Linked DNA regions of Homo sapiens: all the other regions are reported to be linked to region 1. Evidence: microRNA targets listed by miRTarBase, many of them from high-throughput screens and not tested one by one. Region 1 holds a microRNA gene; each other region holds the end of a gene's coding sequence.

Evidence for each region. Region 1 holds the annotated microRNA hsa-miR-203a-3p (GUGAAAUGUUUAGGACCACUAG, at 2,418-2,439, opposite strand). A microRNA usually pairs through its seed, bases 2 to 8, with sites in the 3' UTR of a target mRNA and lowers its output. Matches are read on the target gene's strand: a 7mer-m8 pairs with bases 2 to 8, a 7mer-A1 pairs with bases 2 to 7 and ends in A, and an 8mer does both.
Region 2: the mRNA of TASOR is a reported target of hsa-miR-203a-3p. Seed matches in the 3' UTR shown: 7mer-A1 at 2,885-2,891.
Region 3: the mRNA of MARCHF3 is a reported target of hsa-miR-203a-3p. Seed matches in the 3' UTR shown: 7mer-A1 at 1,079-1,085.
Region 4: the mRNA of GINS4 is a reported target of hsa-miR-203a-3p. Seed matches in the 3' UTR shown: 7mer-A1 at 528-534.
Region 5: miRTarBase lists STOM as a target of hsa-miR-203a-3p. Seed matches in the 3' UTR shown: 7mer-A1 at 2,081-2,087.
Region 6: miRTarBase lists RAPGEF1 as a target of hsa-miR-203a-3p. Seed matches in the 3' UTR shown: 8mer at 1,421-1,428 and 8mer at 588-595.
Region 7: the mRNA of HEPHL1 is a reported target of hsa-miR-203a-3p. Seed matches in the 3' UTR shown: 7mer-A1 at 2,084-2,090.

What each region holds. Positions count from the first base shown.
Region 1 is chr14:104,115,691-104,119,907 of GRCh38, reverse strand. MIR203A (microRNA 203a) reads right to left here and starts at 2,503; the gene lies at 2,394-2,503. MIR203B (microRNA 203b) reads left to right here and starts at 2,405; the gene lies at 2,405-2,490.
Region 2 is chr3:56,619,506-56,623,505 of GRCh38, forward strand. It overlaps TASOR (transcription activation suppressor), which reads right to left. Exons shown (of 24, transcript NM_001365635.2): 24 at 627-4,000. The coding sequence ends at 3,532. It overlaps CCDC66 (coiled-coil domain containing 66), which reads left to right. Exons shown (of 18, transcript NM_001141947.3): 16 at 1-22; 17 at 272-396; 18 at 2,027-2,332. The coding sequence ends at 2,113. Among named protein-coding and RNA genes, the nearest start is that of TASOR, 62 kb to the right of the region's middle.
Region 3 is chr5:126,867,157-126,871,373 of GRCh38, reverse strand. It overlaps MARCHF3 (membrane associated ring-CH-type finger 3), which reads left to right. Exons shown (of 5, transcript NM_178450.5): 5 at 583-3,660. The coding sequence ends at 741. Among named protein-coding and RNA genes, the nearest start is that of LMNB1, 92 kb to the right of the region's middle.
Region 4 is chr8:41,541,339-41,545,555 of GRCh38, reverse strand. GINS4 (GINS complex subunit 4) reads right to left here. Exons shown (of 8, transcript NM_032336.3): 7 at 3,657-3,747; 8 at 526-3,565. The coding sequence ends at 3,469. All of the region lies in intron 1 of GPAT4-AS1 (GPAT4 and GINS4 antisense RNA 1), which reads left to right. Among named protein-coding and RNA genes, the nearest start is that of GINS4, 14 kb to the right of the region's middle. RefSeq lists enhancers at 116-205, 266-415, 2,380-2,609.
Region 5 is chr9:121,337,583-121,341,582 of GRCh38, reverse strand. STOM (stomatin) reads left to right here. Exons shown (of 7, transcript NM_004099.6): 7 at 175-2,596. The coding sequence ends at 381. Among named protein-coding and RNA genes, the nearest start is that of STOM, 31 kb to the left of the region's middle.
Region 6 is chr9:131,576,238-131,580,454 of GRCh38, forward strand. RAPGEF1 (Rap guanine nucleotide exchange factor 1) reads right to left here. Exons shown (of 27, transcript NM_001377935.1): 26 at 4,026-4,154; 27 at 538-3,410. The coding sequence ends at 3,260. Among named protein-coding and RNA genes, the nearest start is that of PRRT1B, 33 kb to the left of the region's middle. RefSeq lists enhancers at 2,702-2,751, 2,782-2,911, 3,112-3,191.
Region 7 is chr11:94,111,432-94,115,648 of GRCh38, forward strand. HEPHL1 (hephaestin like 1) reads left to right here. Exons shown (of 20, transcript NM_001098672.2): 19 at 106-174; 20 at 261-2,777. The coding sequence ends at 463. Among named protein-coding and RNA genes, the nearest start is that of PANX1, 15 kb to the right of the region's middle.

The DNA of each region.
Region 1 (4,217 bases):
AGAGGCTGGAGAGGCCGGAGTGGAGGGGCTGGGGTGCCAGGAAGCACAGGTCTAGTCTCAGCAAAGTAGGGGCCTGTCCTCCTGGTGTCCCCAGGGACCAAGTAGGGGCCTGTTGTAAGACCACACCTCATTGCCACCTGAGGCCTTCCATTGGTCCTCCGAGGCCCTGGCTGAAATTCGGCCTCTTCAAGGATCCCCCACTGGCCCTCCCACCACATCAGCTCCAGTGACAGCTTGAGCTCTGCCCTGCTGAGCACTCAGGAAGTGTGCTGCATCATGTCAGGGGAACCTCCAGCGAGCTCCACGTCATCCTACAGAAGGAAGAAACAGGTCCTCCGAGGGGATAAGGGACTTGCCAAGGTCACTTGCTTGTAGGCATAGAGCTGGGGTTTGAATGCACGACAGACTCTCGGTCCCCTGTGCCAGAGGCAGGGAGGGTGGAGGAAGGTGCCTCTGTCTCTTCAATCCCTCAACCCTCCCACCTTGCCCATTCTCCTGGCCAGGTCCCCAGGGCCAGCCTACAGGCTCCAGCGGGAATGAGTGGGAGCCAGCCAAGGGAGCAGTGTTGTGGTGAGTGGGGGGAGTGGGAGCAGGCTGGAGCCCCTGAAAGTGGGGCCCCTGGGAGCCAAGCCCTTTCCCCAGCCTGGCTCCTTGAGGCAGTGCAGCTCAAACCCGAGGGAGGGGGTCTGGCCCAGTGGCCCAGGGGAGGTCACTGCAACGAGAAAGCTGGTGGCAGAGGCTGGGGGCTTCCCTGGAGACCAAAGTGCCAGAGGCAGAGTTGAGGGAGGGTCTTGGGTAAGGACCAGGCCACTGCCCCTCCACCAACCATCCTCATTTCTGCTTCTCTGAGATTAGAAGGAAAAGGCTGGCTTGCTTTCAAGGGAGAAACCACGCTGAGGCCTGGGGGAAAAGGACAAGCACCCCAGGGACACAGCGATGCTTTGGAACATGTTTATTGTCATCAGTCTAAATTGTACAGACGCACACCGGACAGAATGCCTCCAAGCCGCAGAACAGGGACACAGCCGCCATCTCCCACCTGAGCCTCAGCCCCTCTCACGGGGCTGCTGAGGGCTGAGGGCCCATGCAGAGGGCACGGGGGAACGTGCTTGTAAAATGAAATGGCTACAGGGGGCTGCGGTGGTCAGCAGGCAGCAGCTGGGGAAGACACTCCAACCCCTCCGATGCCACAGACCCACTGGGCGCTCCCACGGCCCCAAGCTCTGAAGCCAGATCCTGAGAGGTGGCCACAATGGCATTTGCTGAGCAACAGAGGAGGCACTGGCCAGTGGTGGATGCTCTCCCGGGAACTCCACTCCCCCCACCTGGGTGGCCAGGGGACCTTGCTGTCCTGCTGCTGGCCCTCTTCTGGAACAGCCCTCCACAGTCACCTCCTGTCTCCTCACATCAACCCCCTATGTGTGCAGGTCGGGCTCAGAGAGGGCAGGTGACTGGCCCAAGGCCACCCTAGCAGGCCTCAAACCCAGGCCTGTCTGACCCATCTCCCAGGACTCCCCGCAGCTCTCTAAACACTGGGTGAGGAGGTGGGGACTGGAGGGGGACCCTCCACCCCAGAGGACACAGCAGGCCAGGCAGCACCAGGCAGAAGACCCCGGCCCCTGGCTGGAGGTGGGGACAGATTCGACCCTTTGCTGAGTCCCTCCCAGGGCCGCCCGGGGCTTCACACGCAGATTGACGCGCACACCTCTCCTGTGGGCGCTAGCTACCACGAGGTTCCAGGGAGGCTCCGGCGAAGGCACCTGTCATCATGGGCGCCGCTTCTCCTCTACCTGGGTGTAGTCTGCAAACTTCCTCCCCACCCCCAGTTCCTGTGCCTCGAGGTCCTTCACGAGTTTAGCGCGCACTCGTAGGAGCCGCGCAGCGCTCCCTAAGGCCTCAGTGAGTGGAGACGCTCCGGGGAGCCGGCAGCGGGAACCATCGGCCGCCCAGCAGGGTGCGGCTGCCGGCAGCCTGATGGGCAGCTCCCAGGAAGCCCAGGGCAAGGAGCGCTCCTCAACCCTACGGGCCCACCGCCAGTTCCTCGCTGGGAATTCCACGGAGTTTCGAGGTGCGGGCCCTCGGGGTGCAAGAGGGCGGCGGCGGCGTCTCCAGGCCGGCAGCGCGCCAGGAGCGTGGGCAACCCAGCGCGCCCCCACCCAGCGGTTCCCACAGCACAGCCCGGCCACGCCCGGCCACCTCCCAGCAGCACTTGGCTCTCCGGCCGAGGGTCTTCCCTGGCAGCAGGTGGAGCCAGCCAGGCCCTGGGGACTGCGGGGCGCGGCGCATGGGGCGGCCGACCTGGAGCGCGGAGCCGGTCCGTGGGCTCCCCTGGATTGGTCGCCGGCGCACCCCTGACTGTGACTCTGACTCCAGGCCGCGCGTGGGACGCTCCGTCGCTGTCGCCGCGCCCGCCGGGTCTAGTGGTCCTAAACATTTCACAATTGCGCTACAGAACTGTTGAACTGTTAAGAACCACTGGACCCAGCGCGCGAGTCCCCAACACCGTCGGTTCGCCGAGCTGCGGAGAGAGGAGCCCCCGACGCCCTTGGGACCGCCCGCGTCGCCTGCGGATCCCGGGGACCGGCCCCTGCGCCCAGATCCCCGCTGGTCGCGCACCCCCTGCCCTGCTGCAGCCACCCGGCCCCGACGCCGTACCGGACGCCTTAGACGCCCTCGCCTGGCGCTGGGGGATCCCAGCCGCCAAGCCCAGCCCCGCCGCGTCCTCGCTGGCCCCGGCGTCCCCTCGTCCCGCGGGCCCCGCGTGGCAGGGCGGCTGAGCTCCGAGCGGCGGTGGCCAGCGCGGCGGCGCCTTTTATGCGGCGCAGCCGCCCTTCCCGGCGCCGGAATGTGCCCGCGCCGCGCTGGCCCGACCGGTTTTTCCGGGCGGGGCGGCTCCCGGGCCCATAGGTCCCGCGACTGATCCTCCACGGCCCGGGGACCTGCTCCGCGCGCCCGCGCGGGGGTGGCCCTGACTCAGCGGCCGCCCCGCCCCATCCGGCGCCCCAGCCTCCAGCGCCTGGCCTGGGCGCACCTGGCCTCCCGGGTTCTGGGTCCCCGCCGGGCCACGCCCGAACCGTCTCGTCTGGGCCGGGGGTGCTCGGGCGCACGGAGGGCCCGGGGCTCCACCTTGGCCGGGTCGAGGCCCAGGGTGGCCGGAACAGGTGAGGACCAGCGCCCGACAGGAGCCCAGGGCCGCGCTAGCTCTCCGGTGGGTGTGGGGGCTGGGCTGGACACACCCACCCCAGCCCCTCTCACTTCAAAGGGAACTTCGTGGGAGGGGGAAGGGGAGGGGTAAAGAGAAAGTGAAACTGGAGGGAGGGAGGTTTCTGCTTCTCAGACCCTGAACCCCCACCCCGCAGCCCACAGGGGTAGCCCCGTACCTGCCTCCTCATTTCCCACGCGGGGGGAGGGACGCCCTACCCCCTCACGCAGCAAGGGCCTGAGCCTCGCTCCCCCCACTCACAGCCCAGCCCCGAACGTCCTGGCGCAGCTGGCCCTGCCGGTCCTACCCACTTAGTCACCTGGAGGTGTCCAGGCCTGACCAGTGGCGCCTCCCAGGGACTCTGCTTCAGCAGAACATGGCAGCTGAGGGGAGGGCTCAGGCTCTAGGAAATACCCTAGAGCCCCCTTCAGCACTTGCCCCAAGTCTGGAGCCATTAGTGTGTCTGTATGGGGTTGGGCAGCAGGGTGGTGACCATTCATTCCAGTGCAGGGCGGTGACACGCCATCCCACCACCCGCCCAGCCAGCCAGGAGCCAAGTGCTCAGGAGCCAAGGTGAGCCCCAGACCAGAACACAGCCACCAGATCTGAGGGACCCCCCAGACATTTCCACATGGGCCGCGTGTGGCTCAACCACCGCAGCCACCCTGGAAAGGGAATCAGAAAGGTTTTGTTATTTTCATTTTGCAGTTGGGGAAACTGAGGCTCAGGGAGGGACAGTGACTTCTGGGGATTGCACAGCTCTTGGTGGTAGAGAAGGGATGACAGGCCTTGCCATCGCTGCATCTGTGGGTCTCAGTGCCTGGGTGTGGAGTCCGAGGGGCTGCGGCATGGGGGTGGGGATGGAAGTGGGCATAGGGGAGCTTGAGATCAAGAACAGGAGCTTGGGAGCTCCTCCCCCAACACAACTGCATGGGCAAGAAGAACCCACCTCTCTTCTTTTCTTTTTTTTTTTCTTTTTTTTTGAGACCTAGTCTTGCTGTGTTGCCCAGGCTGG
Region 2 (4,000 bases), not on the chromosome of region 1:
CCTCAGTACCAAAATTCACAAGGTAAGTAAATATTAAGCATTCTAACTGTAAAAATTGAAGACCCATGTAAACCCCGTCAACAACTTTAAATTCCAAATTAGTAATTCCTGCACTTAGTTCTATAAAGTTTCTTGAATATGTCTTAAATTTTTCTTAGTACTTTCCTAGGATACATACTTATTATAATGACTCCTGACAATATTATATAGCACAGGGCTATGTCATTTTACTAATGTAATTGACTGACTTGTTACTTTCATCTGGCTTTAGACTGTGGCCAAAAACGACAGCTATTTGATTCTGACTGTGTCAGGGATCCACTTCTTAATCCTAACATGGTGAAAAATAGGGATCGACAGCAAGCAATCCTTAAGGGACTTTCAGAACTGAGACAGGTATGAGCTTTTTCAAGTGTAGATATGTCTGTTCTTTATGTGGCGTGGGCGGTTGGGGGAACCTGTTGAACGGTTTGTTTTAAGTTACTTCGGTGCATCCCAGGATTTAACAAAAATATTTCAGTTCCTGTATGTTTGTTAGACACAAATAAAATGGGACTTTCCTAAGACTTGCTTTTACACTGCCGTCTTTGAGTAGTTCTTTCCAGTACGAAATCATCAGACAGTTCTAAAATTAAGACAAGTTTATTGAGTAAAAAAATGCATACATTGGAACGGCAAAACATCAATAAGGCCCTAAAACAAAAAATACAGTTATGCTTTAACAAATTCTTAGCAATGTGGCCCACGCTTTTTAAAAAATTGACGTGTTGGCAGTGTTTGTTAGAACATTGACGTACATCCCAAATAGTAATAAATTCAGTATGAAATTATACGCATAACCTTACTCACCATACTACTTTTTCTCCCAAACTATTGTGACTTCTTTTTGCTCTCTGATTAAAACAAACAGGTAACATCCTTACACCTTTGCTCCATCCCTTGGGCTTTAAAAAGAATGGCTGTAGTTAGTTTTGATTCACTATATACTCTCTGTACTTGAGGAAGAGTAAGCTGTGTTTAAAAGTGCCCTTTTCCATGTCGTCATGTACCAATACCCTCTGCATTTCAAAATGTTGACTCAGATGTTTTTCCCTCTACAGAACTAGAAAATTGTCCCCCCACTTTGGTCTATTTACTCATTTGAAGACAAACAGGGTTACTAAGAGTTTTACATAAGTTATTTCTTTAGAGTGACGAAGTGTTAGTTTACTTCTTGCTTAGTGGAGACAAAAATTGTGAGATAAAGAGGAAGGAATAGGATGTACACATTTACCCATCAATATAGCACCCAGTGTTATTTCAGCAGGACCCTTCTGTTAGCATCTAAGGTAAGGTTAGGACAGTCAAGATAAAATACTGGATGTTGGCCAGGAGCAGTGGCTCAAGCCTGTAATCCCAGCACTTTGGGAGGCTGAGGCAGGCAGATCATGAGGTCAGGAGATCAAGACCATCCTGGCTAACACAGTGAAACCCTGTCTCTACTAAAAATACAAAAAGTTAGTTAGTTAGTTAGCCAGGCGTGGTGGTGGGTGCCTGTAGTCCCAGCCATTCGGGAGGTTGAGGCAGGAGAATGGTGTGAACCTGGGAGGCAGAGCTTGCAGTGAGATTGCACCACTGTACTCCAGCTTGGGCGACAGAGCGAGACTCCATCTCCAAAAAAAAACAAAACAACAACAACAAAAAAAAAACACTGTATGTTAAGGGAGACTCCTTCAGTATCTAAGAGCACTTGGGGGTGGACTGGGGGAGAAGGGATGACTTCATTTACCCCCATAGTTATGGAGTCTTGAGTTCTAAGAAAATTTTCATCCCTATTGATTTTTATGCTAAAAACAGAATCTTACAAATGTGATAGCTATATATCCAAATGAGGTGGTCTAGTACAAGCATTTCTGAAAAAATTTTTGAATGACAAAATTTTATCCTAAGCGATATGTTTTCCAAGTGAATATAATTCTAGTTTAACACAACATTGCAAGTCAGGTGTGCACATTTTACTAACAAACATATATCAATGTGATTTCAGGGCCTTCTCCAGAAGCAAAAGGAGTTGGAAAGTAGTCTCCTGCCTTTAGCTGAAAATCAAGAAGAGAGTTTTGGTTCTTCATTTTAAATGTAGAAAATCAAATCCTTCACATTTGATTTGTGTCTTCCAAATTATAAAATGTGCTCACTGGCTCAACTGTATTTTTCAAATAGCCTAGATTTACTTATTTTTTTAAATGCTCATTAAAAACTTGTATACTATGTAGTAAAATGCTGTACTTGTTCTATACAATAAAACAGATACTTCTTTTGTAAAAGCTTAGTAGTAAAAAAAAAAAAAAAAAAACCGGTTCTTCTGCTCTGTCACCACCTGGGTATTGAAGCCCTATAAAAACACTTTCTACTTACCTTAATATAGTCTGGCGTTGCTGGGACCTCACAGTGTTCTTTCACACTTTTTATGTAACTTAGGAACTGAAATACCACTCATGCATTTGTTCTAAAGTGCCAAAGTTCTGTCTAACTTATTAACACGTCTAGACCCATAACTCCATAACTTTTACTGAAATAACACAAATTCAGTTTAGGCTCCTTCTCTAAATCCTGACATTTATTTGCACTATGACATTTATTTGTAGAAATTGCAATTTTCAAAAACATTTTTAAAAGTTAGCATTAGTAACAAGTTAGTAATTAGTATTAGAGGCAGTAGTTAGGAATAGATACGGGTTTGAAAGCTATCTCCACTGTATCTGTCTAGTATAGCATTAATGTGTTCAACAAATGGTAATTACTACTAAGACCACCTCAAAAATATATTCCCATTATACTTCCATTTTGCTAAAACTAATTTAAAAATCAAATTGTTCAACGCCTTTGATAAACAGAAGCCTATCTTTTGAAATAAAAAATTTAATTTCATTAAATCAAGGATTGCGCAGGTACTGAAAATTATCCAATACTCTCAAAAAGTTACCAGAATTTTAGCAATAGGCAGTTTTTACATGACTAAGCCTAGAGATAAAAAATGTGTCCTATGTACATAGTTTATTATCTAAATGAAACTGCACTGTTAGATAAATCTTGAGGTATCGAGCCAAAATCCTGTAAATATTAACACTGCTATTACTGACTTATACCTGTGTAAACACAGTATACAAAAGCCTACATCAAAATAATTCACTTCAACAAAAGTACTTTATATCAGGTGACATTAGAGAAAAAGAAGTAAAGCCTTTGCTGTTTACCGTCCTCCTGCAAGCATCTGATTTTACACATAAAACAGGCTTCAATTTGAAGCCTAAGTACAGGTAACATACAAAAAGTAAAACTTAGAAGTGCCAACATGAGATAATTCAAGTACAATATATGTTAAAAATATATATTTATTTCAATTTTTAGATGCTTCAACTGTTACAGGCCATCATGATTTAAATAAAAGAAAAAACATTTGAGAAAGAACAAGAACCTTTTGTTTAGAGAATGAAATATAAATTGTTAATAAACAAAGTCCACAACAATCTCTTAAAAAAAAAGTTACTACAGTTATTTCTCTTGTGAATATGGCCTGGAAGAATCACTTTTCCCCCAACTTAAGGGAGGTGGAGATTTATCTCTATCCAAGCTTTCAGTATAAGCAGATAAGAAGTAATTCTCATTTTCTTGAGACTGACTTGATGAAAGGGCATATGGTGTCCCCAAAAATGTCTGATGAGTGAGAACATTAAAATGACTAAACTGATGGGACATATTTAATTGACTATGATAAACCTGAAAGTTACTATATGAATCTTGTTCTGTTGAATTGCTGTTCTCTCCTTCAGAGCATACTATATCAATAGAAGTTCTCTCTTCAGAATCAAGGTAAGTCTTATCTTCTAATAAACTGTTTTGCACATCAGGAGACGATTGCAACTCAATTTGAGTATTCTTTTTTTGATCTGTTCCACGTGATCCTTTGGTCTCTTTCTCCCATATTTCTGAATGAAAATTGCTGCATACTTCTATATGTGAG
Region 3 (4,217 bases), not on the chromosome of region 1:
GAAGCTATAGAATGCTGGAGCTGGATGCAATTAGGAATCACCCACTGGGGCCACCAGGCTGTTGGGCAGGTTGTCCACAGGACAGTACAAAGGGTGTCCTTCATATCATAGTATGAATGGGATCCTTTGAGTTGTGCAGGGTCTAACTTGCAGGAAGGTTCATGAAGCCCTAGCATCCCACTCATCTAACAGAGAAGAACCTAGGCACCTGATAGGCGCATTGCTGAGGTCACACAGCTGGGCGAGGGCTGGCATTGTATCCACCACTAGTCCGAAAATAAATCCAAACTCAGAAATAACCTCATTTTCCCATTTATATCCTGAATTTACCCGGTATGAGGAGGAACAAAGGAAGCCACCATGCAAGCCCTGCCCATGTGTCCACACATAGGGTGCTCTTTGGCTGGTGCCCAATCTCTCAACACTCACTGCGTGCCAGAGCCATTTTCCCAGGGTTCTTGCCCTGCCATAGTGCTTCCAGCTCTTTGAAGCTCTTTCAAATGACATATTTGTTTCTTGTATTGATTATCCACTTCTGCTGACCTGAATTCTTTTCTCTTACTTTTCCTCTCCCATCCCCAGGTGTCATTTAGGTACCACTGTCGATTGTACAACGAGTGGCGTCGGACCAATCAGAGGGTGATTCTCCTCATTCCAAAGTCTGTCAATGTACCTTCTAACCAGCCGTCCTTGCTGGGCCTCCATTCGGTCAAGAGGAACTCAAAGGAGACAGTTGTTTGATGTTTGTATGGTTGGTTGGTTGTTTGATTCATTGTTTGGGGTTTGGAAGTGTCTGCACTGGGGTCATGCACTGAGCGACCCCCAAGCCCTTCCTTAAGCCTGTGGGTCTAAGAACATCCAGAGCATATTAGCACATCACTCCAAGCAACAACCTCCGCCAGAAGAAAGCAAATGCTGTTTTACTTCAAATGATGGATGCTGCAATCATATGATATTTGCTAAGCTGCCAAACATGTTTATTTAGCAGATACTGTATGGAATTTTCTGAACACCTCTTTAACGTATGAGGAAGGTTGTCCTGCTACGGATGCAATTCAATTCTTCCTTTTTTATTACTATTTCAAACACACACACATATATATATATATTAAACTTAGATGATAATCAAAATCAAAAAGTCAACGTAAAAACTGGTTTCTTGGTTTGGTTGGGTCTTATTTGAGTTAGTTTGTTTCTCAGTTTCTCGTATGGATTCTTTGGGGTACTTTGGTAGCCTGAGTGGTCTTTTTCATCTCTTTCGCGTCCATTACTCAAGGAGACAGCATAACAGATGCAGAACAAGTCATATTTGAAGAATGTTTTGTACTAAACTTCATTTAATTATTCAGTTTTTAAAGGGAAAAAGGGCGTGAGCTCACACAGTGAGCTGTTTATTTAAATATCATTAAGGAGAAAAAAAAATATGGTGAGAAGCTCGCTCCTTTCAACTTGTTTGGTACTGACAGCTGATAGAAGCTATTTTCTAATAATAAACATCCAGTGTGTGAAAGACAAAACCCACTGATTGCAATACTCTTTTTTTAATGATAAAACCTGTGAAGTTTCCCAAAGCAGGTTTTAAAAGGAAAAAAAGGAAAAGCAAAAAGGTTGCTGTTCTCACTCCCATCTCATTTAGTGCATGTCTTAATTCGGGATTCGTAATGAATTGGAGGATCATTAGACATTTCTAGGAACCCTAGACCTGTTTTGCATGTCAATTAGCATTCCCATTGCTCTATTGAATTTCTAGCTTGACAGGTAGATGTGGCAAAAAAAAAAAAAAAAAAAAAAGCCTGTCCTAGCAGCCCTGCACTTATTCTAAGACCCCTTTGTCTGATTCTTTAAAAAGGAGCCCCACACAGTGCCTTCCCCCAACCATGAGCCAATTCTGTCACAGTCCGAAATAGACTTTTTCTAAGGGTTTCGTGTCCCTCTTTTATCCGTCGCAGTGTAAAGGGTCTGATCCGCAGCCTGCATTGTGCGCGCACCGAGGCAGGAGCGGATGTCTTCTGAGGAGAGCGCTGGCTGGGGTTGACTCTCAGGCTCCCGGCTGTCCGCCCGCCCACACGCAGCGAGGAGGGGCGGAGCCCTGCTTCCGGAATGCTTAAAATATGGAATTCTAGAACATGACCCACATTCTGAGTATCACTCCAGCATCTGCCTTGTGTTCCAAGTGGGAAAACGAGAAGTGCAAAGGAACAGGCAGCGAGGAGGGTAGCGATTTTTGTCTGCAAATTGATGGAGCTGATGCAGGTGTCCCCTTTGTAGGCGAGCCCTCCATTCACTGGCTGCTCCCAGCGCTGCCTGGGGAGGGAAACAGCTGTACTGCTCTCCGCTGCAAAACTCAGATGTGCTTTATGGCTTGTGACAATAGATTTCCTCCCCACCACGCTTCACTGGGACACTTCAATTCCAGTAATATATGTCTCAGCCCTTCTGTTTACTGCGCCCTGCTCACCCCCCTGGGCTGTCATTAGCTGCACCACCATCAACCGTTTCTTAATTGACCTTTTTAAAATGCTGGACATCACCGGCTGCACGCAGCTGCCACACATTAAATTTCCAGAGCAAAGAGTCCAACTTGGTAGCTGGTGAATTGCAGCCCTGTAATATACTTAATAAATGACGTCCACCCAGCCTTAGTCCCTGAGCTGTCAGGTGAACCCGTGACACGTCTCAACTGAATGGCACAACATTCATGAGAGGACCATACCCCTTCTCCCTGTTTCTTGCATGAATTAAGGAAGCAGCGGATTTCCAGGATGATTTCCTGTCAAGGTTGGCTGCAGAGAATTCCTGCCATCTTGGTTCATGAGATGAGATATGACATCATCAAAGGCAGCCAGGTCCCAGGCCGTTCAATGGGGATCCTGCATTAGGAAGGGTTTGCACATTAAAACTGTGCCTGTGCCACACCTCTTTCCTTCGTGTTTGCATCCCTGCCCTGTGAAGTAAAACAGAGTCCAAGATGCAAGGAGTAGATTGTGTGTGGGGTGGTGAAAGGACACCCCTGGCAGCCAGGCAGAGCATCAGTGCCTCCCTTCCCAGGTCACCAGCTTGGGACCTCCTTGTGAGAGGCTCTGATCTCCATCAGCATCAGGGCCCATAGGGGATTCTGAACTCTTGGAGGATATTTCATCCCCTCCAAGCCTTGCCCCATGGAAAGGGCTACACCTCCTGCAGGAAGGGGTGCCTTTTGTTAACAGGTATTAATGGGTACAGAGGCACCATGCAGCCTACCAGCACCCTTGCTAGCCTAGTCCTCTTCCTGTGCTTCTTTTTGAAAGATCAAGAATGAAGAGGAAGAGATGAGGAGTGGGGGTCCTTTACCTAAAGGACCCTCGTGGTTCATTGCTTCTCTTTAACTGACTTTTTAAAAAAACTCCCTCTTCCACACTCCTTGCTGTGATTCTGTCCTAATCATTTTTCTTGAGAATGTCATGTAGAGATAAATGTGTGTCACAGTGAAGCCAGAAGGTGAATTAACAACTAAGACAAATCCAGCATGCTCTTGCCTGCCCTGCATATGTGCTCATTTGGGGAAGGACGGAGGACACAGAGCATCGACACAAATTCTACAGCTCCTCAGAGAACACAGCAGAGACTCAGATGAGCTGTAAAATCCATTAAGGAAAAATAAATGGCATGATTTGGAAGTTACTTTGATTTGTCTTTCATTGTCCTAGTCTCCCCTGCCCCTAGTGCCTGGGCCCTGCCGTGGATTGTCACTTTCAGTGGGGCTGTAGCCATAGGCATTTCATTTTCAGTGAAAATAATTCATCTGCGGCATGGAGGAGCCAAAGGAGAAAATGGAGGTGAAATCGCAGCCCAAGTGACCCCACAGTTGGGCAAGCAGCCAGCTTCCGGTTCCACTTCCTCCTAGATCCTTATTGTTCCCATTGGGACACTGACCCTGGCTGGGCTCTGGGTCTGCGCCTGCACCGTGCATCTTTCTCCCATATTGGAATCCGCTCAGCCTTGCCTGACACTCCACACAGCTTATGGAGCTGTCCACACTAGGAAATGACCCATGGCCCAAAGAACCTGAGTAGGAAAGACAGCTAGAAAATGAAATCAGGAAATGCTTCCTTTCCACTTCAATCCAGAGTGTTCCTAGAAGCTGCCTGAAGATCTGCCACACAACTTGTAGTCCCTAGTGCTAGATGAGAAATGTAGAGTTGTGATTCTGATGCCTGAAGTAGAATGGGAGTTGAGCC
Region 4 (4,217 bases), not on the chromosome of region 1:
ATACAAAAATTAGCTGGGTGTCATGGTGTGCACCTGTAATCCCAGCTACTTGGGAGGCTGAGGCAGGAGAATCGCTTGAACCCAGGAGGCGGAGGTTGCAGTGAGCTGAGATTGTACCACTGTACTCCAGCCAGGGCGACATGTCAAAAAAACAAAACAAAACCAAAGCACTCTGCAAGCTTCCTGGCTAACTCTTGTACATTGCAGCAGGGGAAGTTTGATGCCTCTGAGGGCGATGCCAAAGCCAGGCGGGCTGCTGGGGTGTGAGCATGGAGTAAATGCAGCAAGGTCACAGATGACGGATGATGACTGCGGTGGGAAAACCCACATAGCGGCCTGCAAGCACGTCTCAGGAAGAGCTGTCTTGCTAGGGGCAAACTTACGGTAAAGGATGACGCCATCATTTGATAAAATGTTCTGTCATGCTTTTAGTGGCGAGTTTTTAACAATAAAGCAAAACACTCACCATGAACCAAATGTTAAAATCAATGTCAACCAAGTCACATCATTTCCTGTTCCACTTGGTTTTGAAATTCAACTTCTCCTTTATTTAAAAATGACATCAAAACCAGTCTTCTCTTGAAGAGGTAATTTAGGAAATGGAGCAATTTACTGTGGTTTTAGAGGATGTAAAGTGCTCCGTGCAGTTGGACATGTACAGGGCAGCAGCTGGAGGCATGAGGACGTAGAGCCGTCATTCAATGTGGTCCCCGGGCCAGCAGCAACTGCACAACATGGGAGCTCCTTAGAAAGGCAGGATCCTGGACCTCACCCTGTTTCAGAACCTACATCTTTTTTTTTTTTAATTTGCAAAAATTTATTCATATACAAATGTGCAATATCAATAAAATGACCAAACAGGTTTGTTCTTGAAACATTTTCAATTGAATGGGAATTAAATGCTTTTGAAAAGTGACAAAATGATCATACAGTGAAGTTGTCTCTTTCTTTATATAACAAGCATAAATCAAGTACTAACTCTTGATTTTACTCTGAATTAACCATGACATACTAAATGAACTTGGGCTTCAGGCAGAACCTACATCTTAAGGCGAGCTCCAGGCGATGGGTATGCACATTAAGGCTTAGGAAGCACACTGTTCTAGGTTAACAGCTCAGGTCTCTGGGCTTAGCACTACAGGGAGAACGTGACTAGGAAGTGCAGACTTGGGTTCTGATCTCAGGCTTACCACTAAATATCTGCTGTTTCCCACAGCCCTGCCCGCTTCTCAGGACTGTGGGGGACCAAATGGGATCCTTATTAACAAGGTCCTGTAAGATCTGGGTCCAGCCTGCCTCAGACCTTATCATGTAATACTTTCTATTTTGAGTTGGGCTTTCTAACCAGGCTGACCTCAAGTAGAGTTTGTTTCTGCCTCAGGGCCTTTGCACAGGCTGTTTTCTCTGCCTGGAACACCCTCCCTTTTGACCTCTGCACTGCAGCTGCCTCCTGTTAATCAGATCTCAGCCTAAATGTTGTCTCTCCAGTGAGACCCTCCAGGGACTGCACGAGTATCAAATACCTTTGTCAAGAAATAAAACCTCCCCAGGCCGTGCGCAGTGGCTCACGCCTATAATTCCAGCACTTTGGGAGGCCGAGGTGGGTGGATCACCTGGGGTCAGGAGCTCGAGACCAGCTTGGCCAACATCATGAAACCCCATCTCTACTAAAAATACAAAAAATTAGTTGGGTGTGGTGGTGTGCACCTATAATACCAGCTACTCGGGAGGCTGGGGCAGGAGAATCTCTTGAACCCAGGAGGTGGAGGCTGCAGTGAGCCGTGTTCACACCACTGCCACTCCAGCCTGGGTAACAAGAGGGAAACTCCGTCTCAAAAAAGAAAAAAAAAAAAGACCTCCCTTGCTTTCCCCTACTGATTTCTCTTGGAAATGACAGCAATGTTACCCTGATTACTCTCGCAGCCCATACCCTGCAAATGGAAATCTGCCAACTTCAACCAGGAAGAAAAGACTGGAATGCAGGTTGCTTTTTATAGCATTTCAAGGAAAGATCATTCATTCACTGCCTATACATCCTTCCTTCCGGCATCACTGTGAGACTCTGCATGCACATTAATTTCATCCATTCCTCTTGAAAAAGTGAAGGACTTAAACCAGAAAAGCGGCCACAGGTCACAATACAAGATGGTTAACGTCACTCCGTTAACAGTGCCTTGGCCAAGGACAGCCAGATGGCCCGGAGGCTGACTTGGCAAAGCTGCTGGAGAGTTGGGGAGGGCTGCGGGTTAACAGCAGGGAGCACATACTTCATTAAACTACAAGCCGGGAGCCGTCCAGAGGTGCCTTCTGCTGCAGAATGGAAATTTAATAATGGTTTATTGGTTTAGTTGTGATTTTCAATTAAGCACGACAGAAATTGGTTTTAAGTCCAATATTAGAGGTTCTAAAATGTTAGTTTACACAGTCTAATGATGTATGACGGGAGAAGGCCACAGCTGTTTTCTTTAATCTATTTACAATCTTCGCAGCAGAAAGGCTAAATGAACTCTCCTACCATTATCAGGTCAGGGCTAAATGCAGCCCCGATCACAGGCAGTGATGCCTTCTTATGAACTACTTCTGCCTGACTTTCCTTAGCTCAGAAAATACTACAAAGGGAAAAGGCGTGCTGAGAGCCTCTGCTGCTCCGCCAAGTGTGCAGAACAAACAGTACAATGGCCCCATCTACTGACACGGGCTAAAACAGCAGACAGGACATGCAGCAACACAAGCAATCCTGCCTCGAGCTCCGCTTCACGCCCGTGACCCACAGCACTGCTGAGGAATGTCTGATGCCTAGTAAACTACTTTATTATTGTCCTCAGGCACAACGTGATACGAGGGGTTTCTAGTATTTTCTCTACGGTTCCAGGTCTTCATTCTTGTTTACGCCTAGTGTGTTTTTTTTGGAAATGGAGTCTCGCTCTGTCGCCCAGGCTAGAGTGCAATGGCACGATCTTGGCTCACTGCAAGCTCCACCTCCCGGGTTCACACCATTCTCCTGCCTCAGCCTCCTGAGTAGATGGGCCCGCCACCATGCCTGGCTAATTTTTTGTATTTTTAGTAGAGATGGGTTTAGTAGAGATGGGGTTTAGTAGCCAGGATGGTCTTGATCTCCTGACCTCATGAGTTTATGCCTAGTTTGTTTTTTTTTTGTTTTTTGTTTTTTTTTTTGAGACAAAGTCTCACTGTCACCCAGGCTGGAGTGCAATGGCACGACCTCGGCTCACTGCAACCTCCTGCTCCCAGGTTCAAGCGATTCTCCTGCCCCGGCCTCCTGAGTAGCTGGGATTACAGGTGCACACCACCAACACCCGGCTAATTATTTTGTATTTTTAGTAAAGATGGGGTTTCACCATGTTGGTCGGTTGGTCTCGAACTCCTGACCTCATGATCCGCCCGCCTCGGCCTCCCAAAGTGCTGGGATTACAGGCTTGAGTCACCATGCCTGGCTGTTTATGCCTAGTTTTAAATTAGCTGGACAGCTCCAGATGCAACCAGAGGTGCAATGGTTTTGTATCGGATCAAGTGCTGTGAGCCCTTCTCCAGGTCAATCACGTAGTCCCTGAAAAAGAGGGAAACACATTTGCCTGCAGAGCTCGGCTGGCCCTCCATCGGGAGGAATGTGCCCACTGTGAAAGATGCACGCCACTCACCTCTGCTCATCTGTGTCTGGTTCTACCAGTATGTTTTCTTGTCGTTCTCTCACTCTCAGAAACACGTAAGAATCTAGATCTGGTTTGGGAACTGCCAGGAAAACAACAATGTGATTAGGAAATCCTCGGCCAACAAAGTCAACAAAGTAAAAGTTGCTGGGAAGAATGGTATGGCACACTCAGGGTTTAGATAGGAGCCCAGCCCATTCCTACTCTTCAAAGATGCAGACAGAGTGGCTGACCAGGGAGGAAACCGGACACGCATTGGGCCTTTTGTTTTCCTCAGGCAGCCTCAGCAAAATGACCAATTCAGGGTTCCACAAGTCTGGTATGGGTCTGACTTGCTCCTGGTGTTATGGGCTACACTGTGTCCCTGCACAATTCATACGCTGAAGCCCTAACCCCCAGTATTTCAGCGTGGGATTGTATTCGGAAACAGGGCTTTTAAAGAGGCAATTAAGTGAAAGCGAGGCCAAGTAGTGTGGGCCCTAATCCAATCTGACTGGTGTCTTATAAGAAGAGAATAGGCCAGGCACAGTGGCTTATGCCTGTGATCTCAGC
Region 5 (4,000 bases), not on the chromosome of region 1:
AAAAAGAAGCATATGGAAACTGAGTATGTAGAAATTGATTTTCTTAAAACTACTCTGGCATACGCCCTAGAAAGTTTTGTGGACCACCTGAGGTATACATACCCCCGGTTGAAGAGTGCTGTGTGTCCCCATGAGGTTTTCTCCAGTTCAACCCCTCCTTTCACCTGTCCATAGGTTATTGCAGCCGAAGGAGAAATGAATGCATCCAGGGCTCTGAAAGAAGCCTCCATGGTCATCACTGAATCTCCTGCAGCCCTTCAGCTCCGATACCTGCAGACACTGACCACCATTGCTGCTGAGAAAAACTCAACAATTGTCTTCCCTCTGCCCATAGATATGCTGCAAGGAATCATAGGGGCAAAACACAGCCATCTAGGCTAGTGTAGAGATGAGCGCTAGCCTTCCAAGCATGAAGTCGGGGACCAAATTAGCCTTTAACTCATAAAGAGAGGGTAGGGCTTTTCTTTTTCCATATGTCAATTGTGGTGTTCCCAGAATGTATAGCAGTTATAAAAATAGGTGAAAGAATTGTTAGCTTGTAAATACTGAGAGATTGGTGATTTATATAAGGTAATCTGTTAGTCTTAAAATAGTTAAAAGTTTGTATTTTTAGATTATTATGTAGTAGGTTAGATCCCTCTTGTTTTGACTTCCACTGACTCATTCTGAACCCCCTAAGCACCCAGGCCAGAGGCAAGAACCTGGGCTGTAACTGCCACCTGACACCGCTGACTGGCTAAATGCTTTGCAGAAAGTGATGACCTTACACCACAACCAGCTTCTCCAGGTCATATGTGCCTTACCTCCAGAGAGTCTTTTTTTTTTTTTTTCTGAGATGGAGTTTCACTCTTGTTGCCCAGGCTGGAGTGCAATAGCATGATCTCGGCTCACTGCAACCTCCGCCTCCTGGGTTCAAGAGATTCTCCTGCCTCAGCCTCCCCAGTAGCTGGGATTACAGGCTCATGCCACCATGCCCAGCTAATTTTTGTATTATTATTATTGTTTTTTAGTAGAGACGGGGTTTCACCATGTTGGCCAGGCTAGTCACGAACTCCTAACCTCAGGTGATCCACCCACCTCTGCCTCCCAAAGTGCTGGGATTACAGGCATGAGCTACCACACCTGGTTTGGAGAGTCTTAATTAAGGAAATTTCCCTAATGTTCATTTATTTTCTAAATCCAGACCGTGTTTCAGAATAATCCTTACTTGAGAGTAGCCATTTTCTTGCCTGTACTTGTCAGAACTAGAGGAAATAGCCAAGACTAATGAAAAAGATTACTCTAACCCTTAAAAGACTTTTAAATTCACTACTAGAGTGGTCATTTTAAAAATACATCCATGTTTTAACTTATTTGAGCCTTCTTTATGAGTAAATGATTCCTCCTTGTTCTGTCTTTCAAACCAGCTAAATATTTGTCACAAAAGTGCTTTTTTCTCACTGTTGCCTATTTTCATATATCAGGTTTTAAATAGTTTTAATTTTTTAATAAAATTTTCTCTACGTTCTATATGCAATTGTTATATATCTATTTGAATAGCTGAAGGACTAAAATACTTTTTTAAGAGATAACTTCAGGAAACCATTATATTTTACTATCTGCATGCTGTTAACTGTGGTACACTGTGAAATATGTTGATTACAAACCCATTCATTACATAGTATAAGGAATTCACAGTATATTGACTATATAGTGTCTAATGATCTTGGGCAGATACTGTCAAACTTACAATATCTATATAGATGTAGGTCTTTTTAAATTTACCTAGTCATTCTTCTATCATGTATATTGATGCTGAAAGAGGAACTGGTCAGCTCCTCTGGACAACAAATTCTTAGTCTATAATATTAGGAGACATCTTCTGTTTTGCAAATGTCTGTGAATCTGAGCAACCTGGCATTCTGCTTACTGGCCAGAAAGCTGGCGGGTGACATTTGTAACATTTCCTCTTTGAGACTCTGAGTTCACCTAGAGAAGTCTAAGCATAACAGCTTTCTTTCCCAGCACGAGCCTTTATAGCTCTCTTTAGCTCAACCACTCTGTCCATCCAGCCAATGGATGTCCCTTCCCCTGTACCCCAATTTCAAGCTTATTTTAGGAAGCCTTGAACTACCATGTATCCTGGCTCCTAGCTGAGTTTATTAGAGGTATGGAGCAGTGCAACTTAAACTCAAGTTGCACTTACATTTTGAATTTTAAAATGATGGTTTTATCTGTTGTGTGAAGTGGTTCACCCTTGAGGACCAGGAGCCTCCATATCCTGACTGAAAACCTTTTCTGAGACTTAGAGTAACAGTGCTTTTGGTTCCTTGAGTTCTCCTGTCTCCAGATACCAAATGACCTTGACTTTTCTGCCTTGTGAATTCGTAGTCCAATCAGCTGAAATTAAATCACTTGGGAGGGACGCATAGAAGGAGCTCTAGGAACACAGTGCCAGTGCAGAAGTTTCTCCAGGTGGCCTCCCTTTCCAACAATGTACATAATAAAGTGTATGCACTTTCACTAATATTTTTGGGGTGAGAGTCTGTTTCGGCCTGTATTGAATGTCTGTGGATTTCCGTTTTCAGAAGTAGTACATTAGATCCTCCGGTTCTGAGCTGGCTGGTTGGCTTCTTCGTGTGCTTTGTGGGCCAGGGGAAGGGGACAGGCTGCTGTGGGCCATCTGCTGTCTCCCAGGTCCAGGCACCCTCTGGTGCACTGGCCCACACATTTTCCCTGGGGAGTTTCAAGATCCACACACACCCTCCACCACCACCACAAAGCTTTAACTGACTTCATTTTCTTTTGCCTTCCTCCAAACAGGACAGGAACCCACTTCTTGCTGTCACCCAGTTAATCACATAGACATAGCCTTTACTTAAAAAGAAACAAATAATGATAAAAAACCAATGTGTTTTACCTGCAACATCTGACAGAACTGTCTTGAATTAGTGGCTACCATTTGGGAGCACCAGTCACTCAGCTCTGTGCACAAATACGTGTATGTACATTCTATCATTTTATCTCAAAATGGTTTGATAGACACTTTATTATCACCATTTTGTAGATGAGGACACTGAAGGCTCAAAGGTTAAAACAGCCAAAGTCACATGGTCGGAAAGAAACAGAGCTGGGATTCAAACCCAGATCTGTCTAATGCCAAAGATTTGTGAGGTGTATCAGTGTATCTTCGTGTGACACTGCCTGCCTCTAGTGCCCCCATCCACACACCACCACCACCATTTTGTAGATAGATCACAACTTTTCCCAAGACTATCAAAGTTCATTTGTCTTTACATTCACACCTAACTGGGCCCTAAACTTAAACTTTTGTTTTGGGCCATCCAATTCAGCCAAAGTTCACTATAAAAAGAGGAGAGTCAATTGGGCATTTGTTTGTTTTTTTTTTTTCTTTGAGATGGAGTCTCGCTCTTGTCATCCAGGCTGGAGTGTAATGGCGTGATCTTGGCTCACTGCAACCTCTGCCTCCTGGGTTCAAGCGATTCTCCTGCCTCAGCCTCCTGAGTAGCTGGGACTACAGGCGCATGCCACCACGCCCGGCTAATTTTTGTATTTTTATTTTTAGTAGAGATGGGGTTTCACCATGTTGGCCAGGCTGGTCTCGAACTCCTGACCTCAGGTGATCTGCCCACCTCGGCCTCCCAAAGTGCTGGGATTACATGTGTGAGCCACTGCACCCGGCCCGATTGGGCATTTGTAACCACAAATGTCATAACACACTGTCCTGAGCAGGAGGAAACCAGTGTTCCATAGACTCTCAGCTTATGTAGCATTTTAAAATATATCATTTCTTGTGATACTCACAAACCTGCTCTCACAGTTACTTGGCTAGTAAATAGTGAATCAAGTGCCTCTTCCTCTTACTTTCAGCAGCAAACCCCTTTTTTCAAAGGTAACTGCATCAGTAAAAGGTTTACGGTGTCTTTTGCCAGGATAAATTCTTGAGTTCACATTTATAACATTTACTGAATATAAAGTAACTCAATGAGAACAATGAGGC
Region 6 (4,217 bases), not on the chromosome of region 1:
CACACCTCGGGGCAGAGAAGGGACTGGAATCCCTGGGGCCTCCTCACTCTGTCCCTTGTAAGTGCAGAGGCTCTGCTGTTCTTCACTGGGGCTGGGCCCGAGCCTCTGTGTGCTGCCTCCTGGGCGGCAGAGGACACACCGCAAAAGGCACGCCATAAAGACAGTGCTTCCGGGCCCCGAAGGAGCAATTCTAGAGCCTGTGCCCCCGAATCCCACCCGAGGAATGCCCTTTTCATCAGGACACTGGGGTGAGGGGCTCTTGTGCATGAACCGACCTCTGGAGCACGAGCAATTCTTTGTCCAGTTGAATGCTTCTAGGGCACAAGGCCTAGGAGGGAAAGTTCTGGTGACGTCCATTTCACTCAGCCACGACTACCCCAATGGCAGCAAGTGGGCCTGGGAGTGGAGCTGAATGACCCCAGCCTCCCAGGAGCCCCGCCTGCGACAGGGGTCTCAGAAAAGAGATGGCAAGGCCAGCATGGAGCAGGCTGGGCTGTCACTGTAGTTGCACACATGCAGCTGGGCGCGGACATGGCATTGGGCAGCTTTCATCTGTGTTTATTTTTTTTCATATAAAAGTTACATGTTTGAAATGTCTGCAGGAAGATGCCACCATCAGACAGGTTAGCTGGGGCATATATATTACAATGTAACCCTGTGGAGGTCGTGGGGCCGGAGCGGGAAGATGCTCCCCAGAATCGGGTTCAGGTCAGACATGGTGTGTGCCTGCCCCTCCTTGCCCCCCCACACCCCGACACCTGCAGGTGAGGACTGACCTCTGCAAGGAACGAGTCCTCCGCCTGGCTCACGTCTGTCTGTGAAGACTGATTCCCACAACCCGCCCGGGCCCCCCAAAGGAACAGACGAGCCACGGCCAGGCCGCAGCACTGAGCACAGAGCTCAGCAATAACCAGGGCCAGGCTTAGGGGGCACAGGGGGCTGCCTGCCATCAATAAGTTAGACATACATCGCACCTTGCCGTCCTCACGCAGGGAGCCCCTGGGCACTGCTCATGTGCTGCCTGGGCCCTGCTGCTCAGAACACCAAGGGCTCCCAGTGAGGGCCTGGGGAATTGCCTGGGCACACTGGGGCCAGGCACAGGGTCTGTTCTGAATTCAGGGAAGGTGAAGAGACCCCACCTCTATCCAGCTCAAGCCCAAGAACAAGGCAGACAGAGCTGTGGACAGCACCCGACCACAGACACGGTTCTGCCTGCTGCTGGAGTGAGAGGCCTGGTTTCTGAGGCTGCAGCATGGCACTGGCATTGCCTGTGCTACAGATGGGGACTCCTGCGAGTCTCACAAATACAGGGAGAATTTCAGTTCACACAACCCAAGGGCCCTGTGTGCAGAGCGGCCCTCACACGCGCACAGCAGCATTCAACAGAGCTGGGCAAGGGAAGGGGAGAGAGAGTCAAGGATTGAAATGAAGGGACTTCAAAAAGAAGGAACAAACTAAAAACCCAACCCACACACAATACTGTTAATAAGCCAGCGACTCTACACACACACTCCTTAAATAATAAAGTGACAGGTCCCGGCTGGCCCCGCAAGACCACCGCAAGAGGGGGTCCCGCCACCAGAGGGGGTCCCGCCTGCCACTGCACGGCTTTCCTCCCTCTATCTACAGGACAAACAAAACACGGGAGAGGGGAAAAAGCCCACATTTTCTTCTTGATAAATGCTGTTCAAAAACCCATGAAGGACTCAAAGTGACATGGTGGTTTAAAAAAAAACCTAAATGATCAACAGATGTTGCTTTCTATATTTTTCCTTTGTTCTGTTTGAACTGGGCTAAGTAAGCACAGTTAGACCCTGCTGTTCACTTGACCACGTCCTAAACCCGGGACAAGTGAGCACTCATTCATGCACAGCAGACCCGGAGGCATGGGCTGGGGCAGCACAACTGGGTTCCCGCAGCGCCCTGCCTGCAGGCTCATGCTGGAGGCCACGGAACCAGGCGGCACAGGGCAGATTCTGTTTGTCAAGCGCCCCACAAGCCTTGCCCAGATTGTCAAGCTCAGCAGCGAGAATGGTTTTGACGAGGAGGATGGAAACAGCATCTGCTCTGGAAGCCGCTCTGGCGTGGGGAGAGTGGGGAGAGGGTGCGCTTGCTGCAGCTGCTGCCTTAGGAGGCTCCTCTGTGGCCAGGCTTCTGCCTCCCTGCACCCTGAGGGACCATTCGGGTGCCTCAGGGATGCCCTTCCCTCCCAGGGGCACTGACAGCACTGGCTGAAAGGTCTGAAGAGCCAGAGGAGGAGCCCTGCTGGCTGGCCCAGGATGGGGCAAGGAGGGAGGGAAAGCCAGGGGATGGGGAGGGACATGAGATGGAGTTTAAGGCACACAGCGAGCGATGGAGGAGGGAGGTGCTGGCCTCTCCCCTCTGAATTAACTCCCCCAGGAGCTCAGCTCTGGCCTCAGTTTGGTGAGGTTCAGAAGACTCCCAGCAATAAAAAGTATTTCTTGGATGATCAAGTCCTCCCTTACTCCAGCCTCCTCTTCTCAGCTCCCCAGGTGGTGTGGGAGGGGCCCAGTGGCCTGGGGTGGGGGGTAAGGGGCGACGGGATGACAGAGACTGCTGCTGCTCTCAGGCGGGCAAGGGAGGCCCTGATGGCGCCAGTACCGCGGGGCAGAGCACCAGCTGCGGGGCTGCTAAGGCGTCACCTGCGTACCTTTCCGGGCCTGCTGAAAAGCTCACACCATCCTCCATGCATCAGAAGGGGAAGCGGAAAGTGAAAGGATCCTCCCCCGAGTCTACTCTGCATTCTGCCCACCCAGCTGCTTGCCCCCATTCCAGGGCCCCTGCAGGACAGGCCACCCCAGGAGGCCTCCACTCATTTGAGATTTCAGAAGATTCAGGGACCCTGGAGCTTAGGGAGGGGGAGCACCCACCACTTCCTTGGTCTGCTGATGAGGTCTCTGCTGCTCTCTCCCTGGAGGGGAGTGGGTGGAAGGTCAAGAGGGGAGAGATGGAAGTAAAAGCAGAAAACAAAACCAAACCAGAAAACCACCGGTTTGTAAATTGGCAACAAGACCTGCCTGCTGGCTGCCCTGAGGCCCACGGGTCTGCTCCCACAGAGGAAGGAGGCAGGAAGCGGCTGGCAGGCTCCAGCTCCCGCCCGGCCCCGCTGAGGGCTGGCCAGCCTCATGGCTCCGAGGCCGGGACTCCTGCCATGCGCCTAACAGGTCCAAGGTCCTCTCCGGTCTGGGAGCTGCCCTCTGCGCCCCTCGAGCATTCTCCTGGATCCCGGCGTCTGCTCCTAGGTCTTCTCTTCCCGGTCTGTTTTTCTCCTTGTTATGTTCCTGGGTTTAATTTTCAGAGACAGTTCCCATAGGGCCTCCTCAGCCAGGTGGTCACTGAAGTCATTGAAGAAGTTTATAATGTCGTCGTTCCTCCGCATGTCATAGTGCCTGGTGCAGGGGATGGGGAGCAGTCAGTGAGCACCTGTGTGGGCTGGATGGCCCGATGGCGCCACCCTCCTGGAAGGTGCCGCGGGGACCATCCCCACAGCCTCGCAGCAAACGGATGCTGCAGGGGCTACCGTTGACCAATGTGACAGAGGGGACACCAGTGCTCAGAGACGGTGCCACCAGCACATGGAGCACAAACAGGGCCCTGAGGCTGGGCTGCTCACAGGGAGGGGGCCCCAGGTGATCCCACTGCCCCCAACAACGCATGCCAGGGCCCGCCCTGGGGGAGCTCTGGTGCCTCAGAGTCAGGCAGGCCAGGGTTTGTCAGGCCCTTCTCACAGCAAGGTGGGCACCAGCTTCTGGTGTGTAAAATGGGAGGACGAGCTGTGCTGTCACGGGGTCCAGGCCCAGGGCCAGGCTAGGCCTGGCATGGAGCCTGGTGGGCATGCTCTCAAGTCATCCTGGCAGAAACTGAAGGGCCCGGACTATATCTCAGCAGTGGCAGGTCCCTGGGTCCTCTGTGGCTCCCCCTCCCCTCGGTGTCCCGGGCTGTCTCTCCTTGTGTGTGGCCCGGGGCTCAGCTCTGCCTGGTCCCCCCGGGGCAGTGGCACTCACGCCTGCTGGAAGCAGCGCATGCTGTCGAGGATGTTGAACTGCTGCCACCGCTTGGAGAAGTTCACTTTCCCGTCGATGTAGTCTGGGTTTCCCAGGTGAACGAAGGTCAGGTCCTGCAGGATCAGCCCCCTGGGAGGACGGGTTAGGCAGCCTGTTACTGCTACGGGGTTTGGAAGCAGCAAGGGCTAGAGA
Region 7 (4,217 bases), not on the chromosome of region 1:
GATACTGATGGGATAAGTCCTCGCTGGTGAAATGAAATGACTAGTGTCATGAAAAGAATCCCCTTCTGTTGTTAATAAAACAATGAACTTGTTTTCTTTGTGCAGACAACAGGATTCCTTACTCCACCACATCTCCTGGAGTGGCATCTCACCCAGCCACGGTGCCATCTAACGGTAATGATACCCTCTCCCCATGTAAATGAGTCAACATTTCACCCCTCAAAAATGTCAGGGGCCTGACAAGTTTATCTTTTTCACAGAACGACCTGGCAAAGAGCAGCTCTATTTCTTTGGCAAGAATCTGGGTCCAACAGGAGCCAAGGCAGCCTTGGTCATCCTTTTCATCATTGGACTCCTCCTTCTAATCACCACGGTGATTCTCTCCCTCAGACTCTGCTCTGCAATGAAGCAGACAGATTACCAGCAAGTCCAGTCCTGTGCTCTCCCCACGGATGCTCTGTGAACCATCTGGTCTCCCTCAACAGGAAAGGGTGATGTCCCACAGCTGGCCAGATGGCAGCCAACAGGGAAACTGGACCAAGGCATCACTCACCAAGGAAGGTTGACACTGTATCCTGGATCAGCCTTCTGATCCTCTCAAACATCATCCAAAGCAATTTGCTTTTATTTATTTATTTTTAAATGGGCTGCGAATAATCCTCAGGTATAAAACACAGAAAAAGGAGAATGGGCATGGCTGAGAATGTCAACTCTTAGTCTATTCTTTGGTTGGATTCACTGAATAGGAGACACTCTGAAAGATATCTTTATATTCCATCTTTTATAATTCTTGAACAGTGCTTTCTTAGCTAACCACCAAAGTTTCTAGGTGAACAGCTTCTAGAAAAAGTTAGAGTGCCTCAGACATTTAACTGGAAGGGCACTACTTTTTCAACATTGTTGCATAACATGCATCCCTTGGTTCTGTGGAAAATATCTTTCTTAGGAGTTCTTGGCAATGTCTAAGTCAGTGTCTGCTGATAGAATTAGACCAAATAAATTTTTTGGAGGCTTTAACCAGCTCTCCTGGCCTTTTCCTCTTTGATATAAATAGCCTGTGCAGTGCTTGTTTTAAAAAGCAAAGTTATACGTTTTTTAAAAAATTGCTGCTGTTTTTATTCAAACCTGTAGAAATACTTGAATGTTTACAACTCACTTCATGTTACATGTTTTTACAATATGTTTCTGTGGCAATGTTTGTACTTTCAAAAATCAAGTAGAGAAATTGTATTTCTACTGCAGACTGTGGGAGGGCTGAAATCTGTAAAAGAACATGTTAGGCTCTCCCTTTATGAATCAGGGACTCCCTGAGAGTTTAGAGCAAGCTTTCTATCAGGGAGGGAAGCTTTGCAGGAGGCAAGTCTGGGCTTGAATTTGGAGTCTGATTTTTCATTCAGTTAGAGGGAATCTTTACAAGTCCTCATCTTCTATGAAATTATAACATTCTCATTGTATGAGAAACATCAGGAGGAATTTATCAATGTAGGTGACTAGATAGGAGAAGGGACCTCTAAATATCCTAGATTCTATGGCTTTTAAAGACATACCTCTTCATGGAAGGAGAAAAAAGGAAAAGGAAAGGTGAGAAAAAGATAATCTTGGTGGCAGATTCTCTTAAACCATTAAACCAGCTTTGAAAATTAATAAATAATTTCCAAGGTTCAAATGCAAAAAAATTATTGAACAACTAAACTCAACCCATTATGAGGCAATCTACACTGTCCATACCTATGCTTAGACAGTAGGTGTAAGATTGATAAAAGTAACATTGTTTATTACAAGACTGAGAAATTGCTTTTAGCTCTGGGCGAGATGCCCTGAGATTCCAATGCCAATGCTAGATGAGTGATACTGGTATGCCTGCCTTAGCAGTGGGTAATTTGAATGTCAAAGTGAGTGACAAGGACCTAAGAAATATTCTGGTGGAGGGACCTTTCACACTGTCTCATCTTCATCTTCATGAGGGGAAATGGGTAATTGGATAGAAGCTATAGTCTTAACATAAAAGGGGATGCAAATGCTAATAGTTCTGTTCATAGTTTGCTTGAATGTCATATCAAACAGCATACACAAAAGATTTTGAATTTCAATCTGCTAACCATTGACAATGTGATTTCATAGTACATGTTCTACAGTTTTCATACATGTGTAGGCTGCATAATTTCATAATTATGGTAAATGCCTTATTTATTACCCACCTTAGTAAGACAAGTTGTTCAGTTGTTTTTTTTTCTTTTCAGTTTATTTTTTTAATGAAAACAAAACCACAAAGTAGTTTGATTGCATCATTTATCATTTTAATAAAGTGTCACATAAGGTGGCTATTTGCATGGTTATTTTCACTTAAAATTATCTATCACTGAACTAGGGGAGGTGGTTAAAGTGGAATTAATTTTTAGATATTTAGGGGCTATGACTATGCCAATGACACTTGTTAGAGGAAATGAAACAAAATAGTGTATCTCCACAAATAATATGACTTCTCAAACATTGTTTCCTCAAACATAACTACACTCCTTGTTCTCAGCCTCACTCTTGAGAAAATCAACTCTGCCTTCACTTACACACATATTTCTTCCTATTACAATACACGTGTCCCTGCTCCTAGCAGGACAGTCTCTTCATTTGACTTTGGGTCTCATTGCTTCTTGCTTTCTCAAGACTTCATTCCCTTGGGTATCCATTTTTCCTCCTGCATCTTTCTATGAAACCATCAGCAATGTCCGCCATTAAAAACAGAAAGCAATGTGCTGTCTTATTTAACTCTATAACCCCCTCCGACACAGTTTCTCTCTTCCTTTGATAGCAGAACATAGAGGTATTCACACTTGGTGCCTGTACTACCTCACCCCATGCATTCCTCAGCCCATTCTGATGGCTTTCAATCCAGCGTGCCCAGCCCCCACACCCCAATCTGCTGTGGTAGAGATCACCAATCATGATGCCATTTCCAGTGGCTTCTTCTCCATCTTTATCTTACTCAACCTCTCAGCAACAAGAAACAGCTCCTTCCTTCTGAACACTCGGAGTCTCTAGTCCCTTGGCTCTGCAACATGACTCTCTGCCAGCCTTCCTTCTTCCTCAATGACTATTCCTTCTCAATCTCTTTTTCTAGTTCCTTCTCTTCTGTCTGACCTAAATGTTAGCATGCCTCAGAACTTGACACTGGGTCCTTTTTCGCTTTTTACCCTCTGTGGTAGGCTGAATATTGCCCCAAAGATGTCATGTCCTAATCCCTGAACCTGTGAATGTCACCCTATGTGGCAAAAGGGACTTTGCAGGTATGATTAAGGATCTTGAAGATAGGAAATTTATACTGGATTATCCATAATGGCCCTATATGTAATCATGAGTGTCCTTATGAAAGAGAGGCAGTGGGAGATTTGGCTACAGAAGAAGGCAATATGACAACCAAGACAAGATGCCATGCTGCTGGCTTTGGAGATGGAGGAAAGGGCCATGGGCCAGGGAATGCAAGGAATGCATCTCCAGAAGCTGGGAAAGGTAAGGGAAAGGATTTTCCTCTAGAGCCTCCAGAGAGAGGTTGGCCTTGCAGATATCTTGAAACTGATTTTGGACTTCAGAGGTCCAGAACTGTAAGAGAAGAAATGTGTGCCAACAAGTTTGTGGTAATGTGTTACCAGCCACTCCATAGTTTATTTTATCCATCCTTATGATCGGAAAACCATTTTTATGCAAACAAATTCAAAATGTATTTCTCTAACCCTGACCTTGGGCTGCAGATTCACACAAATCCTGCTTGAGTAGGGCCACTGCAGCAGTCCCCAAACCAGCCTCTCCATCATCACTACTGCTCCTTTCCACCACTGTCCACACATTGCCTCACGTTTTTCCAAATTTCATCACTTTCCTGGTTACTACCCTTTACTGTCTTCCCATTTCACTTTTAATAACATCCAAACTCTTTACCTTGGTCTTTAAGACCCAGCTTGACTTGGCCCATGCCCACTCCTCCAACTTCTTGAACTCTGCTCCAGCTTTCATCCGCTCCTATACTCTGCTAGTTCTTTCTTGCCTCAGGGCCTTTGCACATGCTGCTTTCTATGCCTGGAATGCTCTCCCTCCCTAGCTTCCTCATTCCCTCTCTGTATTAGTCGGGGTTCTCTTAGAGGGACAGAACATATATATATATATATATATATATATATATATATATATATATATATATATATGTAAGAGGATAATAATACCGGTCT